Linked DNA regions of Homo sapiens: region 2 is linked to region 1. The links come from fine-mapping of genetic effects on gene expression. Tissue or cell type: fibroblasts. Region 1 holds a variant in brackets; the other region holds the start of a gene. All regions are shown on one strand. Distances are between the middles of the regions.

Evidence for each region. PIP is the estimated chance that this variant, and not a neighbour inherited with it, causes the effect.
Region 2: it holds the start of STRN, and the variant in region 1 is fine-mapped to the expression of STRN in fibroblasts (GTEx, PIP 0.92).

What each region holds. Positions count from the first base shown.
Region 1 is chr2:36,879,034-36,887,140 of GRCh38, reverse strand. STRN (striatin) reads left to right here. Exons shown (of 18, transcript NM_003162.4): 8 at 315-425; 9 at 3,066-3,209. Among named protein-coding and RNA genes, the nearest start is that of STRN, 83 kb to the left of the region's middle. The variant A/T (reference allele first, on the strand shown) is at 3,239.
Region 2 is chr2:36,962,299-36,970,405 of GRCh38, reverse strand. It overlaps STRN (striatin), which reads left to right and starts at 3,870. Exons shown (of 18, transcript NM_003162.4): 1 at 3,870-4,176. The coding sequence starts at 3,943. RefSeq lists silencers at 3,380-4,189, 7,715-7,910.

The sequences.
Region 1 (8,107 bases):
TTCTTGATTGTAAAGTGTTTGTGCTTAATTTACTAAAAATCACTAAAATCTTCCGTGTGTGTGTGTGTGTGTGTGTGTGTGTGTGTGTGTGTGTGTGTCTTTCAGGAGAAACTGATTCTAGGAAATTGCACTGATCATTTCTTCTTAGTGATTATATTTTTTTGTGTGACTTATATATATAAAATGAATAAACTGACTTTTTTTAAGTTAGTGATACTATAAAGAAAGTGGTTGTTACGTCATTCAGACATACTGACTCAGAGTGTTCAATATTTTATTGAAAAAGGCTGTTTCATTTGTTTCACTCTGTTTAGAAAAGGAAGACCAGTGTCTCATGCCTGAAGCCTGGAATGTGGACCAGGGAGTAATTACCAAACTCAAGGAACAATACAAAAAGGAGAGAAAGGGGAAAAAGGGGGTGAAGAGTAAGTGGAAAACATTGTATCTGTAAATCATAAATCTTGCCTCTTTACATCCCCCAGTTTTTTTTTTCAATGTTTTCCTAAATCTACTTACTCTTTTTCATTTCTGCTCCTGACCTCTTTCCTTTTCACCTGCTCTCAGGGGTTGAAATTAAATGATTAGCTATTTAATTATGAACTTAAAAGAAAACAACCCACATGTACTTATGGAATCATGTATACTATATCCCAATAATAAATCCAGAGCCTCATGAGTGTTGGGCTATGTATTCAAACACAGTGATAATTTGATTTTTAAAAGTACCTGTGCTTAATTATAACAATGTTTTTCTTTTTCATTGACAATTTATAACTCATTTAGTGTGACCCTCTGGCAATCCACCAAAATTATTGCTTATAATTTTAGACATTGGTGACAGAAAGTTAATTTCTACCCCTGAATATTCTATGTGTTCATAACATGCAGTTCATTTGCTCATACCACTATATGCTATACAGGGCACAGAGTCAAATATATAACTTCTAAAAATATTTATTTTCTATTTAAACATTTTTGGCCAATTTTACTTATAACATTATTACCAATGACCTTTTTTCCTTTTTAATGTATGCCACATCAAAAACAAAATCCAAAAGGAAATTTCTAGCCCTGTGAATCATATATGTTTAATTATTTCATTATGCAAATTGTTTAGCAATGGATCTAGTTAAGAATGTAAAATGGAAATACAAAACCTTACAAACCATTCCTGAAAACAGTCTTAAATCATCTTCTTAGGGGAACAAGGCTAAATTACCTCCTTGTGTTTCTACCCTCGTTGACAATATGGGCCTCCCTTTTATGGTAATAGGAATTTGATTATTTGAGATGTTAAGGTAGTATAAAGTGAGATTAAAATCTAACTTAGTGAGAAATGTATTTTAAAGTTGCGAAAGACTGGAAAGGTATGCTTTTTCTTTTTCTCTCTCTGTAGTGATGCTAAAGCTTATTAAAGACCAGTCATTCCTGTTAGGACATTCTTTTAAACTTTATTACTTAAAAGCATTTAAACCTTTATTTAAAATATTTTAGAAATTACAAGCGTTTAGCTTGATTTGATAAAAAGTCAGTGTCTGTTATTGATGTTAAACCATTACATAATGAGAGATGATGTTGTAATGCTATCTCAAGATAGATTAAATCAGAATGAGAAAGATTAATATTAAAACATAAGCACATTTCATACCTTTTCGCCAAATATACTTACTGATAGACAATTTAATCTTAACAAGCATAGGGAGATGATTTGTCTTGGCTTTTGAGAGTCATGACAAAAAACCAGTTAAACTGAAATTTTGAGGAAAATTTGAATGTCATATGTGAGAAATAATTTCCAGATTAACTTAATGTTGATATTTTTCTTTAGGTCATTATGCTACAAAAATGAATGTCTTGAAATACAAAAGATCCTTTAGTTGGAAAGGTAACCAGGACTTAGGCACAATCCATCTACTTTTCCATTGGTTATTCAGTTCTTGTCAAATATCAAGGCATTGCTGTAGTTGGAATTTAACTGAAACTGCACCATTTGACTGGAACAATATTCCTACTAATAGAAGCAATTGGATTTCTTAAATCGGGGGATTAAAATGTGTTCAGACATCTAGCACATGGTTTTTTTTTAGTATGGTGAAGAAAAATGACACTGTAAGGGAGAAATTTTAACATCTTTCATTGAAGAGAGAGGGACTACACATTTCAGCACATTTTGTTTAATGTCTTCAGTTCATGTTATCTTGATAAAATAGCAATCTAGGAACAAGTAAAGACTTAGGATAAAAATAGAACTGAAGCCATGCTTTGAATTGATATATAAAGCATTGAGTTATAAACCACCATAAATTTTTTTTTTTTAATTGAACTAGTACTCATTGGAAAAGTTTGAGTCTTTTCAATGTGGTCTAGTAGAGATATTTCCAGTCAAATCCTGTACTCCAATCATACCATCTTGAAATACATTTCTAGGCATTAGTAAAAATTGCTTAAAAATAGTTGTATTCTTTGCTGGTATAGGAACAAACCATAACAGACTTTGGGTAAGATTTTCCCATTCTTAATTAAACTTGTAACAGGAAAAACTACTGAAGATCTGTTTCAGCCTCTATCCTATATAAAACAGTCAAAACAGGGATGTGGGAGAATGAAGAATCAAAGTTTAGGTAAGTAATCGGTAGGGCATGAGACTTCACCTCGGGTACCATAGCTTCAGGATGTAAGGCAATTAATGCAACTTAATTTAAACAAACAGGGATGTTACTGTTTAATTCAGTGCACAGTAGGCTCACAATCTGTATCTGGCTGCATTTAGAGCAATATTCAGTGGCTAAAGAATGTTATTTTTCATGGTCTAACTGGACACGAGCATTCTTTTTTATGTAAATAGTGATATCCCATTTGCTTAATTTAAAAAGTATAATTCTTTTCAAGAAATAAACTTTTACAGTAATTTGAAAACTTGAAAATAATTCTTATTAATCTAGTAGAATATTTTTAAAGGTAAATATTGACAGATGGAAAATAAGGCTTATAATACCATTTTGATGCAATTGGATAATTCTCTTTTCTCTTTTTTATCTCCTCCCACCCCCCCTTTTTTTGGCTAGGGCCCAATAGGTCAAAACTACAAGATATGCTTGCTAATTTGAGAGATGTTGATGAACTTCCTTCATTGCAGCCATCTGTGGGTTCACCTTCCAGACCCAGCAGCTCCAGGCTTCCTGAACATGAAATTAATAGGGCAGATGAAGGTAAGTATTTAAGATACTCTGGAGCACAA[A/T]ATGCACTTGGATGTATATCTTTAAATTCATTCATTAGAAAGGCCTCTCCTATTAGAGAGAACTTTATTCTGCAGATGTTTGATCTGCATAGTTTTCCCCAAATGCAAGCTTTCTTACATTCAAGGGAGTTTGATTCCAACTTCAATCTTCAAGACTTGAGAAGGTGCATACACTTAAAAACCAACTCTAAATTCTGGTTTAAAATATCCGCTGGCTCCACTGATGCCCATGGCCCTATATATACCATTCCAACATTGGAAAAATTAGCAGTCTGTAAATTGGTAGTAAATGTTTACTTTGAAACTCATATAAATATTTAAGCAATTTATTAATGATAATTGAAAAAGGGGATAAAGTCACCTAAAAGTCTAGTCACATATTCTGCTATTTTAACTTGTTCCCTTTCAGTCTTGGTTCACATGTGTATACTTTTTTTTTGTTTTTTGAGATGGAGTCTCGCTCTATCGCCCAGGCTGGAGTGCAGTGGCATGACCTTGGCTCGCTACAACCTCCACCTCCCAGGTTCAAGTGATTCTCTTGCCTTAGCCTCCTGAGTAGCTGAGATTACAGGCACCTGCCGCCAAGCCTAGCTAATTTTTTTGTATTTTTAGTAGAGATGGGGTTTTGCCATGTTGGCCAGGCTGGCCTCGAATTCCTGACCTCAAGTGATCTGCCCATCTTGGGCTCCCAAAGTGCTGGGATTACAGGCATGAGCCACCATGCCTGGCCTCACATGTATATACTTTTTATACAGGTATAGAATATACCTATATAAAAATATGCATTATTCTACATCATGTATAATAATTCTATTTTGTGTTCTTAAAATCATACAAATGATTTTCATAATGATAATTTTAAGATTGTATATTATATTGTAGACTTGATATGAAACTTTTGAATATTTAGGTTATTTTTAGTCTTTTGCAGTGTAATCTTATGGTATATAAATACAGTTCTTTCTTTTAGACACAAGGTCTGATTTATCTGTTTATAAATGTGTAAAATGCTTGTATGTGGAAATTGATTTTGAAGTACATATTTAGGCTGAGCCTGGTGGTTCCTTGGGAGGCTGAGGTGGGAGGACACTTGAGCCCAGGAGGTTTGTTTTGTTTTTTGTTTGTTTGTTTTTGGAGACAGGCTGTCACTCTGTCACTCAGATTAGAGTGCAGTGGCGCAATCACAGCTCACCACAACCTTGACCTCTCAGGCTCAGGTGATACTTCCACCTCAGCCTCCTGAGTAGCTAGGACTATAGGCACATGCCACCATGCCCAGATAACTTTTTTATGCTTTTTGTAGAGACATGGTTTTGCCATGTTGTTCAGGCTGATCTCAAACTCCTGGGCTCAAGTGATCCAACTGCGTCGGCCTCCCAAAGTGCTGGGATTACAGGCATGAGCCACTGGGCTCAGCCGCAGTTCAGGAGTTTGAGACTGTAGTGCGTGATGATTGAGTCAGTGAATAGCTACTGCACTCCAGCCTGGGTGACATACTGAAACCCTGTCTCTTAAAACAATCAAATATTTATATTAGCTGAAAATTCAGCATGACATAAAAGTAATTATGATTAATGTATATTTTTAAATACTTATTTAAAAAATTCTGAATTTAAATACTATATTTGCATTGTCTCTTCAAATTATTATTTATTGATCAACACAGCCTGAGAAAAAGCCACAGCATAATCATATGTTTTTTTCTTGTTTTTTTTTAATAAATTACATTTTAGAGAGACATAAACTGATATGATTTAGATGTATCTAGATTTTCACGATTGGAATACTTCTTCAGTGAAATTTTTGACCAGTACATGGTTAATCATTTGTTAGAGTCAATTATAGCACTTGGAATTTATTACCCATACAAAGAATCAACACATCACACTGTAGATGTAAAGTTTATTTGATGTCTTTTGAATTACAGATGTGAGGTCATGGTCCTTAGTAGGTATGTTGATCACTAGGAGATGCATTCTGTTGACATTATAGGTATGAGACTTCTAATCAGTTGCATTAATCCCAAAATCAGGTCTAGATAAGGAGAAAAGTTAGTTTTTCTCTTATTCTCATAATTCAAAAAGTTTATCAGATTTCATCTCAGGCCATACATGAATTATGCAGAATTCTAATAATAGAGGTAGGATATATACTATTTACTAAATGACAGATGTACAAAAGCATTATGTAAGCCACAGAAGATGTCCTTGATAAAAAACATAGTGAGGAACTTTAAAACTCAAGCATTGAATGTTTGTTTAACTTACTATCTGCAGCAGTGGTCCTAAGCCTTCCCCCTCAGTGCAGGTTTTTTGGAAATAGAAAAAACATTTAAGAGATAGATTGTATATTTAATTGTCTATAACTGATACTTCTTGGTCTTCAGTCCACTTTCAGAAAGAATGTTCATATGCTGTGTGTGCTCTATAATTTTGTTACTTTATTTTTATTTTAATAATTCAGAAGGCAGGGCCGGGTGCAGTTTAGTTGCTCACGCCTGTAATCCCAGCACTTTGGGAGGCTGAGGTGGGCAGATCACTTGAGGCCAGAAATTCAAGACCAGCCTGGCCAACATGGCAAAACCCTGTCTCAAATAAAAATACAAAAATTAGCTGGACATGGTGGCGTGTGCCTGTAGTCCCAGCTACTTGGGAGGCTGAGGCAGGAGAATCACTTGAACCCAGGAGGCGGAGGTTGCAGTGAGCTGACATCACACCACTGCACTTCAGTCTGGGTGACAGAGTGAGATTCTGTCTTAAAAAAAAAAAAAAAAAAAAAAAAAAAGAAGGCAGTGTCACATTTAAAAGGCACAGGGTTTTGTTTTGTTTTGTTTTTTGGTAAAAGCTGATTAGGGCTAGGAAGGTTTAGTTGCCAGATGGAAACGTGACCTATAGTCTTAAGTTCTAAGGCTCCTTAGGAACAATCAGGTAACAGTGATGCTTATTATTGCTCTGCCTCATCAGTCCTGGAGTGTCCTGGCTGTCCACTGGTATGTAAGGAAGGAGTTGTTACCTCCTTTGTTTTCAGGTTTTACTTGGCCATTTGTAGAGCAGTAGTTAGAATTAACTTACATAATTTATATGGTCTATCCTAGGAATCTTAGTCTTTTACACCTGAACAAAGTTATCTGGAAATGTTAGAAATGGGAACAAATCAAACAAAAAACACCTGGCTGAAGACCTACCATCATAGTCTCACATGAGTCATTCAACTGATATTTTTGACCTGAAAATTGCTGTTGTAACTTCAACAATTCCTATTCTTCATTAGTAAATGTTTAGAGTTGTTTGAACTTCTCGGATGATATATGGTATTTTGGGTAAAACCTATGTTTATTTTTGCTACTGTATTGTATGGTAGTTTGATAATGTCTTAATTTATGCTCTATTTTGTTCTGATGAGGATTTTAAGAGTTTGTCACTACTGTTTTTAAAAGCAAGTAACTATTTTTAAATTTTTTTTAAAGACATGGTCTTGCTCTGTTGCCTAGGTTGGAGTGCAGTGGTACAGTCATAGCTCACTGTAGCCTCAAACTCCTGGGCTCAAGAGATCCTCCTGCCTCAAGCCTTCCAGTTAGCTAGGACTAGAGGCATGCACCACCATGCTTGGTTAATTGTTAAAAAAAATTTTGTAGAGGCCGGGCATGATGGCTCACGCCTGTAATCCCAACACTTTGGGAGGCCAAGGCAGGGAGATCGCTTGAGGTCAGGAGTTTGAGACCAGCCTGGCCAACGTGGCAAAACCCCATCTCGACTAAAAATACAAAAATTAGCCAGGCATGGTGGCAGGTGCCTGTAATCTCAGCTACTTGGGAGGCTGAGACAGGAGAATTTGCTTGAACCTGGGAGGTGTACGTTGCAGTGAGCTGAGATCACACCACTGCACTCCAGCCTGGGTGACAGAGTGAGACCCCGTCTCAGATTTTTTTTTTTTTTTAAGATATAGGGGTCTTGCCCTGTCGCCCAGGCTGGTCTCAGACATCTGGCCCCAAAGGGTCCTCTCACCTTGGTATCCCAAAACACTAAGATTACAGGCATGAGCCTCCGAGCCTGGCCAATTCTTTCATTTATTCAATGAGTATTTATTAATAGACATGATTGAATATAAAACTGAAAAATGTCTTGTACGTGCACTAGTCAATACAGTTGACTTGTTTCTTTTAAGAAAATTAATTTACCCCTTTAGCAGCTAGGGTTTGAACTACTAAATTCATCTTATTGACTCACAAATGTTTGTCATATGTAACCATCTGTAGGAAACTACTCAAAGACTATCTCTGACGTTTGTCAGAACAAATTGCATTTATAAAGAGTGACATTTTGTTATTGACCAAATTAAATAAAATCATTATTTTAATTAGACATATTGCTTTTAACTGATTTTTCTATGATGGTTGTTGAAGGAATTGGATTGTTATGTTCAAAATGTTACAAAATAGGATATTTCAGGTTATTCACAAAGTAAAACTGACATCTTTGAAGCACAGTTCACAGCTAATGAAAGTGTTCAAATGGACACTTTAAAAAATTTTCTCGCTGGGCGTGGTGGCTCACGCCTGTATCCCCAGCACTTTGGGAGGCCAAGGTCGGTGGATCACCTGAGATCAGAATTTGAGATTAGCCTGGTCAACATGGGGAAACCCCGTCTCTACTAAAAATACAAAAATTAGCCAGGCATGGTGGCAGGCGCCTGTAATCCCAGCTACTTGGGAGGCTGAGGCAGGAGAATTGCTTGAACCCAGGAGGCAGAGGTTGCAGTAAGCTGAGATCATGCCAGTGCACTCCAGCCTGGGCCATAGAGCATGACTCCATCTAAAAAACAAAAAAAACAAATAAACAAAACATTTTCTTTACCGGGTGCAGTGGCTCA
Region 2 (8,107 bases), 83 kb before region 1:
ACACGTTGAGATCTGAGGCTTAATGATTGGGCATAGACGTTAGTTTTTTTTTTTTGGGGGGGGTTGTTTTTGTTTTCATGGTTTGTTTTTGTTTTTGTTTTTGGAGACGGAGTTTCGCTGTTGTTGCCCAGGCTACAGTGCAGTGGCGTGATCTTGGCTCACTGCAACCTCCGCCCCCCGGTTTCAAGCGATTCACCTGCTTCAGCCTCTGGAGTAGCTGGGACCACAAGTGCACACCGCCATGCCTGGCTAATTTTTTTTGTATTTTTGGTAGAGATGGGGTTTTACCATGTTGGCCAGGCTGGTCTCAAACTTCTGACCTCAGGTGATCCACCCACCTCTGCCTCCCAAAGTGCTGGGATTATAGGTGTGAGCCACCGCCGTCCGGCCTGTTTTTTTTTTTTTTTTTGAGACGGAGTCTCCCTCTGCCGCTCAATCTGGAGGGCAGTGGCACGATCTTGGCTCACTGCAACCTCCTCCTCCCAGGTTCAAGTGATTCTCCTGCCTCAGCTTCTCGAGTAGCTGGGATTACAGGCACCTGCCACTGCACCCAGCTAATTTTTTTAATTTTTAGTAGAGACGGGGTTTCACCATGTTGGCCAGGCTGGTCTCAAATTCCTGACCTCGTGATTTGCCCACCTCGGCCTCCCGAAGTGCTGGGATTACAGGCGTGAGCCACCTCACCCGGCCCTGTTTTTGTTTTTTAAAGATTATTTTAACTCTACTAATTTAAAGTTTTGAATAGGGAATGAGAAAGGAGAGAACAATGATTGAGCCCCTAGAATTTACCAGGGACTGTTTCTTTTACATATATTGTTTCAGTTACTCTTGTGAACTGTATTGCAATAATAGCTATCACTATTCCGTAATATACCATATAGTAGGCACTATGAGAGGGGATTTACTTTTTTTCTTCCATTTAACTTCACAGCAACTTTATTAGGTGACTATTATTCCCATATTAAAAAATGAGAGAATTGAGCTGGGATTACAGGCGCAAGCTGCCACGCCCAGCTAATTTTTTTTTGTATTTTAGTAGAGATGGGGTTTCTCAGTGTTGCCCAGACTGGTCTTGAACTCCTGAGCTCAGGTAATCCACCCGCCTCGGTCTTCCAAAGTGCTAGGATTGCAGGCATGAGCCACCGTGCCAGGACCAATAAGTGATAATTATGGGATTCATAGTCCTATAGTTTTAAGGCAACTTAGGGCACCAGAACTCTAAGGGAAGGCCTTCTTTTTAAAACTTTTTTTTTTTTTTGAATCACAGTCTCACTGTATTGCCTAGGCTGGAGTGCAGTGTCATGATCTTGGCTCACTGCAACCTCCACCTCCCGGGTTCAAGCGATTATCGTACCTCAGCCTCCCAAGTAGCTGGGACTACAGGCATGTGCCACCACGCCTGGCTAATTTTTGTATTCTTAGTAGAGACGGGTTTTGCCATGTTGGCCAGGCTGTTCTCCAACTGTTACCGGTGGAGAGTGTCCAGGTTGTTGAAATCTTGAACAAAGAATTGGGGAAAGCGCACAAAGCAAGGAAAGAATGAAGCAACAAAAACAGAGATTTGTTGAAAATGAAAGTAGGCTCCACAGTGCAGGGGCAGGCCCGAGCATAGGGGATCAAGAGTCCCGTTACAGAATTTTCTGGGGTTTGAATACCCTCTAGAGGTTTCCACTGGTTACTTGGTGTGCGCCCTATGTAAATGAAGAGGATGAAGTAAAGTTACAACGTCATTTAGTTGGTGTGCGCCCTATGTAAGTGGAGAGGACATTTCCTGTTATAGCTGAAGTATTTCCATTTGATTCAGTTCTAGGTAGTCAGCCTGAATCTACTTTACGTTCCCTGCCTCCAGACCCTATTCTCCTGCCTCCTGCCCACAACTCCCAGGCTCCAGTGATCTACCCGCCTCGGCCTCCCAAAGTGCTGGGATTACAGGCGTGAGCCATGGCGCCTGGCCAAAATGTAAATGAGTCCTCGTAAAGCAAAAAAAGTATTGTGAGTAATAAAGTTGAACTACGAATTAAAATAGTTTTTGTATATGTGTGGTAGTCCAGATTATCTATACATTTAATTACATTTTGTGTCTGCTATGAATTGACTTAAAGGAATTGTCGGATATGTCGTCTCACTCAAGGCCTCATTGTTGACAAGTCTCAATTTTTTTGGAATTTAGTTCCTTGAGCTGTAAATGAGAAGACTGGGCTGTATCTCAAAGGACACTGACAGCCAAAATAAGTTATGGCACAGGGAATTTGGCCAGGCCTGGATCAATCTTTGATGATAATAAAGAATGAATTCATAAAGCAGAAACATTAATTAAGCGAGAGAAGAGAGTTCTCCATCTTTATTTGCAACCAGAGCAGACACAATGTGTTTCCTGTCCTTTCTGCAAGTAGCCATGGGAAAGGGGGGGAGGGGAGAGAGGACAGGGACAGGATGTCTTTCCCTGACATGTCACTCAGCAGCCTAGATCTTTACATTTTTTCATGGCCATCAAGTCTGATAACCCACAAGTACGTCCTACAAAACGTAAGAATTTCAGATAACTTGTTAGGGTGACAAAATAAGTGCTTAATTTCATTTGCATTTGTTAAATTGTTTTCAGGGGCCTTCCTTTTTGCCACTGTTGTAGTGTGAATTTATAGTGACATATTGTCAGACTTCGGAGAAGGCAAATATTTACAGAGAGTAACTTGAAAGGACTTTGGTGTACCTTTGGTAGGCGGATGCTGTTGCCAGTTGGCAGGTGAATCGTGAAAGAAACTGGGAACAGGACAAGTGAAAACGGAGAGGGGCCAGGATATCTAAGACCGCGCTAGGGAGCAGAAAGGGAACTTGCTTTTTCAAGGTGGTGTAGCTTTTAAATTAAGCCTTTGTGATATTTGATTATACGCCAATCTTTGATGACAGAAACGATGTCATTTATCTTAATATTCCCAGCGCAAGAGAAAACCGATAATCAAAATATTTGTTCAATTAAGTAGAGTAAAAATCAGCGGGAATAAGATAGGAAAAATGAGACCGAAATAACAGAACATCTATTATTGGATGCTAAAACTTTTACAGGATTTACTGCAGGAGGACTGCAAAGGGAAAGAAACTTCAACGGAGCAGTTTTTCAGATGGGCTGTCAACAAACCACAATTTGGAAGCAGCAGCAGAAAGCTGCGGCGTTGTCTTAGAAAGGTGATCGGCGTTCCTTAGAAATGAAAACTGGTCAGGTAACAGGTTTGAGCCCCTCGAGTCAAAAGAGAAAGGCAAGAGCGACAGCGACCCGCAGATTGGCAGAATGGAGGAGCGTCTAGGGTGAGAGAAACTCCGAACACGAAGCCGAAGCGAGAGCACGCAGGGCAGCTGGCGGGAGAACCCCGGTCCCGCGGCCGCACCGGGTAGCTCGCTTTGAGCCTGTTCCTTCACAGAACGGCCAGGAAGCCTTAAAAGATGTGCAGCTCGGGCAGGTATCTTGGCGTGACAACTTCCGTGTGTGTGTGTGTGTGTGTGTGTGTGTGTTTTTGAATGCAACAGGGTGCGCCGCCCGCGAACTTCCGCGTGCGAGGAAGACTGGAGACCCGCCCGCCCGCGCCCAGCCGGCCCCAGAGGAAACCCGCTCTCCCCGCCCAGCCGGCCCCCTACGCGGCGAGCCGGGGCGGGGCGGGCCCGAGGCCACGCCCAAGCTGAGGCACAGCCCTACAGGCCGCCCGGGCCGCGCTAGCCCGCGCCCCGCCCCGCGACTACATTTCCCGGCAAGCCCCGGGCCGCCAGCGCGCCGCAGTTGACCCATTTCCCGGCCCGTCACGGGCTCGGCCGGCCCCCGCGCCCAGGAGGCTGCTCCCTGCTGACTGGGGTGTGGGCGGGAGCGGCGGAGGGAGGAGGAGGCGCTGCTTGCCGCCGCTGTTGCCTCCGCTGCTGGGCGCCGGGGCAGCTCCCCGGGTATCTGCGGCCGCCATGGACGAGCAGGCGGGTCCCGGCGTCTTCTTCAGCAACAACCACCCGGGCGCCGGCGGTGCCAAGGGGCTCGGGCCTCTGGCGGAGGCTGCCGCGGCCGGCGACGGGGCGGCTGCGGCGGGGGCGGCCCGAGCCCAGTACAGTCTCCCGGGGATCCTGCACTTCCTGCAGCACGAGTGGGCCCGCTTCGAGGTGGAGAGAGCCCAGTGGGAGGTGGAGCGGGCGGAGCTGCAGGTAAAGACCCTCCCGGCCTGGCCGTCTTCATCCCGCCTCTTTGCTCCCTTCCGCCCCGCCCCGGACCCTTCTCCCCCTCCCCCAGCCTTCTCGCGTCCCCTCCCCCTTTGCTGCCGCCCATCCCACCCGGAGCCCCGTCCCCTTCTTCTCTTCGCCTTTTGCCTTTCGCTGACCCCACCTCGACCCTGTTCTCACTCCCGCTCCTGGTGCGTTGTTTACCCTCCCCACGCCTGTTCGTCCGCCCCATCCCACTCTTAACTCCCAGACTCATTTCAACTCTCTGGCCATCCTGCATCTCAGGGCTGCCCTCTCGGTTTACTAATTGGGCTGGCAGTAGTTTTGAGAGACGCGGAGCAAATCGTCCGCTGCCCTGGTGTGCCCCTTCCTAGGTCTAGAGACAGTCTCCGCAGAACGTGCCGGCTTTGGCCCCTCTCTTCAAGGAAGGTGATCAAGAAGACAACAGAAGTTGTGTCAGGCCTTGAGTCGAGGCGAGAAGTTGACGTTGGGCAAAAGTGTTATTCATATATCAGATCCCTTTTTTTATATATGTAAATGTCTGTTCTCCACTTTCTTCCGACCCCCCGGCCCCCTCCCACGTTTCTTTTAGGTATTTCCAATTAATGCATTTTGAATGAAGGACCTAGATGATCGCAGTCAGAGAGAATGGTTAAGAGGTGGTTCCTGTTCTCAGAATCTGAAACTTCCCAAGGGTTAATTTTATGTTCAGTGTTTTGGGAGATTTTCTTGTGCTTTAAAAGGAACTAAAGGGACTTTGAAGTTAGTTACATTGCCTTGCATAATCTGCAAGATAAAGTATATCCAGGGAGGAGATAACTGTGGGCTCTGAAAAGAATGAAAGTGAGGCTGATACTTTACAAGCCATTCAGAATTGGTGAATAGGTTTTCAGTGGTTGTTCTTAAAACTTCCAGGGCATACACACCAATTTCAAAAGGAACTTAAAGAACTATGAATAGTTGTGCCTTTCTGTTTTACGGGCTAAGCCTGTATACTTATGAAATTTGAGTATAGTTTTAGTTGGCAAAACACTTGAGTTTAAAATGCTACCCAGTGTGTCACTTTTTTTGGTAACATGTATTTGGCGCTTAAGAAAAAAAAGAAGAGGAGAAATCTGTTAAATAGAATCATGTGCTGGAACAGGCTCTGGTGTAGTGGAAGTGGCTGTGGAAAGAGCGAACACACAAGGCTGTAGTAGACAAGGTTATAGTAAGGGCTGTGTTTGTTGCTAGCTCTGTGACCTTGAGGAAATCCTTTAACCTCTCTGGGTTTCAGTTTTATCATGTATTTTATTCAGCACCTGTGTATTGAGTGCCAGCTGTGTGTCTAGGCCCTGTGTTGAAAGAAAACCGACCAAGCTTCTGCCCTCATGGAGTTTATGTTTTAGTGGAGAGGCAAACAGTCCAGCAAATGCGCCTATAGAATATAATGGCTTATAGTGGCAACTGCTGTGAGGAAGAAATAAGTCAGAGTTCAGGAATAGCGTGTGATAGGGGCAGCTATTTTAGATGGGGTAGTCAGGGTAGGCCTCTGAGAGATGACAAATGAGCAGCTGAATGAAGTTAGGGAGTGACCAGTAGTTTCTATGATTTCCTTGTAAGTCTGTAGTTACATGTTTATATTATTTGGCAACTTTTTCATTCCTATTGTTATATTGCTGTAGTATTTAGTCGATCTAGTCTATCTGATATTTGCAAGTCTTCTTTGACCTTGTTTATATAGTCTCCAACAAATTTGAATACTTACAGATTGATCTTTATTAGCAGCGCATTCTATAAAAGGTGTGGATTTCAGGATTCAAGGAAATGTTAAAGGCAAAGTTTAACTTTAATGTTGTGCAGTTGTGGGGAATGATTTTTGTATTAGTTACTTAAAATTTAATTTCTTTTCCAGTTTTGGGAATATAGATAACTCACACTAATTTGGTTAAAAAAAAAAAAACAAAAACAAAACACACACACACACCAGAAAACAATGCTTACCTTTCTACCTGTAGAAGTTGGGGAATTCCAACCCATCCTTCCCCCCGCCCCGCCCCGTTCACTCCCTCTCCTCGTTTAAACTTTTCAATTTACTGGTAACTGTAGTTGATCTTCAGTTTTTATGCACACATCTCCAAACACCCCTTCCTGGGTTGTTTGTGGCAAATGTTTATTAACTTCAGGTAGCTTTCCCATGGGTGCTTATCATATTAAAGAGACTCCTTTTTTTTTTTCCTTTTATTGGAGAGAGGGTCTCGCTCTGTTGCCCAGGCCGGTGTGCAGTGGTGCAGTCTTAGCTCACTGCAACCTCCGCCTCCCAGGTTTAAGCAATCCTTCTGCCTCAGCCTCCCAAGTTTAAGCAATCCTTCTGCCTCAGCCTCCCAAGTAGCTGGGATTACAGTCATGCACCACCATGCCTGGCTTATTTTTGTATTTTTGGTAGAGACGGGGTTTCACAATGTTGGCCAGGTTGGTCTTGAACTACTGACCTCAGTGATCTGCCTGCCTCAGCCTCCCAAAGTGCTGGTATTACAGGCGTGAGCCACTGTGCCCGGCCAAGGACACTACTTTTTTGACAGCATTTTCTGTTTTGTGTTCCAATTAAAGTTTCCACAGAGAAACTTTAAAAATGTGTCATTTTCCTAACAGGATGAATATGATATATTTTGGGGGGAAGAGTTTGCAGTAATCTCTGGTCTTTGTCCCCCCTTATTAGTGTAATTGGAAAAAAAATTATTACCATCGTTACATTTGAATCTTCTTTATTTTTCTTTTGCTACTGGAATTTTCTTAGAAACACAATAGGAAGTAAAATAGTTGAATGCGTTGTGATGAAATACGGCTCAGTTGGTGTCCTCCTTTTAATTTTTAAATCTCTTCCTAAGCCATTAACACCAGAGTCAACACAAATACCTTTAAGATGAAGTCAAATTTGCCTCTTCAAGAACCTGTCAGTCCTGCTCTTTCAGGTTGCCAGGGAAGACTTGTGAAAGGCAATCCAAGCTCTCATCTGCCTGGCCTGCCTTTACTGCTTCCTCCCTCCTTCAGATCTTGGGAGTAAGGAAAGGGCCACGTTATAGCAAAAACCTATTTATTTGTCACTTATTTCACTCTTGCTCATCTTATTTGATAAATTCTCTTTTTATTTTTGGTAATGCTCCCCTCCTCACATCCAGTTGAGATTAGGCAGTAGTTCATGGGGGGAAAAAAAGAATGATTAAGATTATTAGTGAGCTTTACATTTGTGAAAGGAATTGGAGAAGGAATACTAATAATATTTGAGAAAAATTTCTGTATGTGAGGCATTGTGCTAGATGACCTCAAAGAAACATGCAGTCTAGTTATTAGTACGATATAACTTGTAGAAGAATCAGAGTGTTTATCATTTGGGGAGAAGGCTAATTTCTTTAGAATAGTGAAGGAGAGGCCGGGCGCGGTGGCTCACACCTGTAATCCCCAGCACTTTGGGAGGCCAAGGCAGGCGGATCGTGAGGTCAAGATATCGAGACCGTCCTGGCCAACATGGTGAAACCTTGTCTCTGCTAAAAATACAAAAATTAGCTGAGCATGGTGGTGTGTGCTGGAGGCTGAGGCAGGAGAATCGCTTGAACCTGGGAGGCGGAGGTTGCAGTGAGCTGAGATCGTGCCACTGCACTCCAGCCTGGCGACAGAATGAGACTCCATCTTAAGAAAAAAAAAAAGAATAGTGAAGGAGAGAAGAGCCAGCAGTGAATGGGGAGAATAGCAGGAGTAAAGAACTTTATGAGTTCATGAGAACCTAAGGCTCAGTATTTGAAAATTACTGACTTATGAGAAAGCAGGCATGTAAATAAAAAATAAAAAATGTTGGCCCTAGATTTTGATATGTGTGTGGTGTGTGGTGTAGGAGAGGCCCTGATATTTACCTGTAAGTGTTAGAGTTGTATGAAAAAGG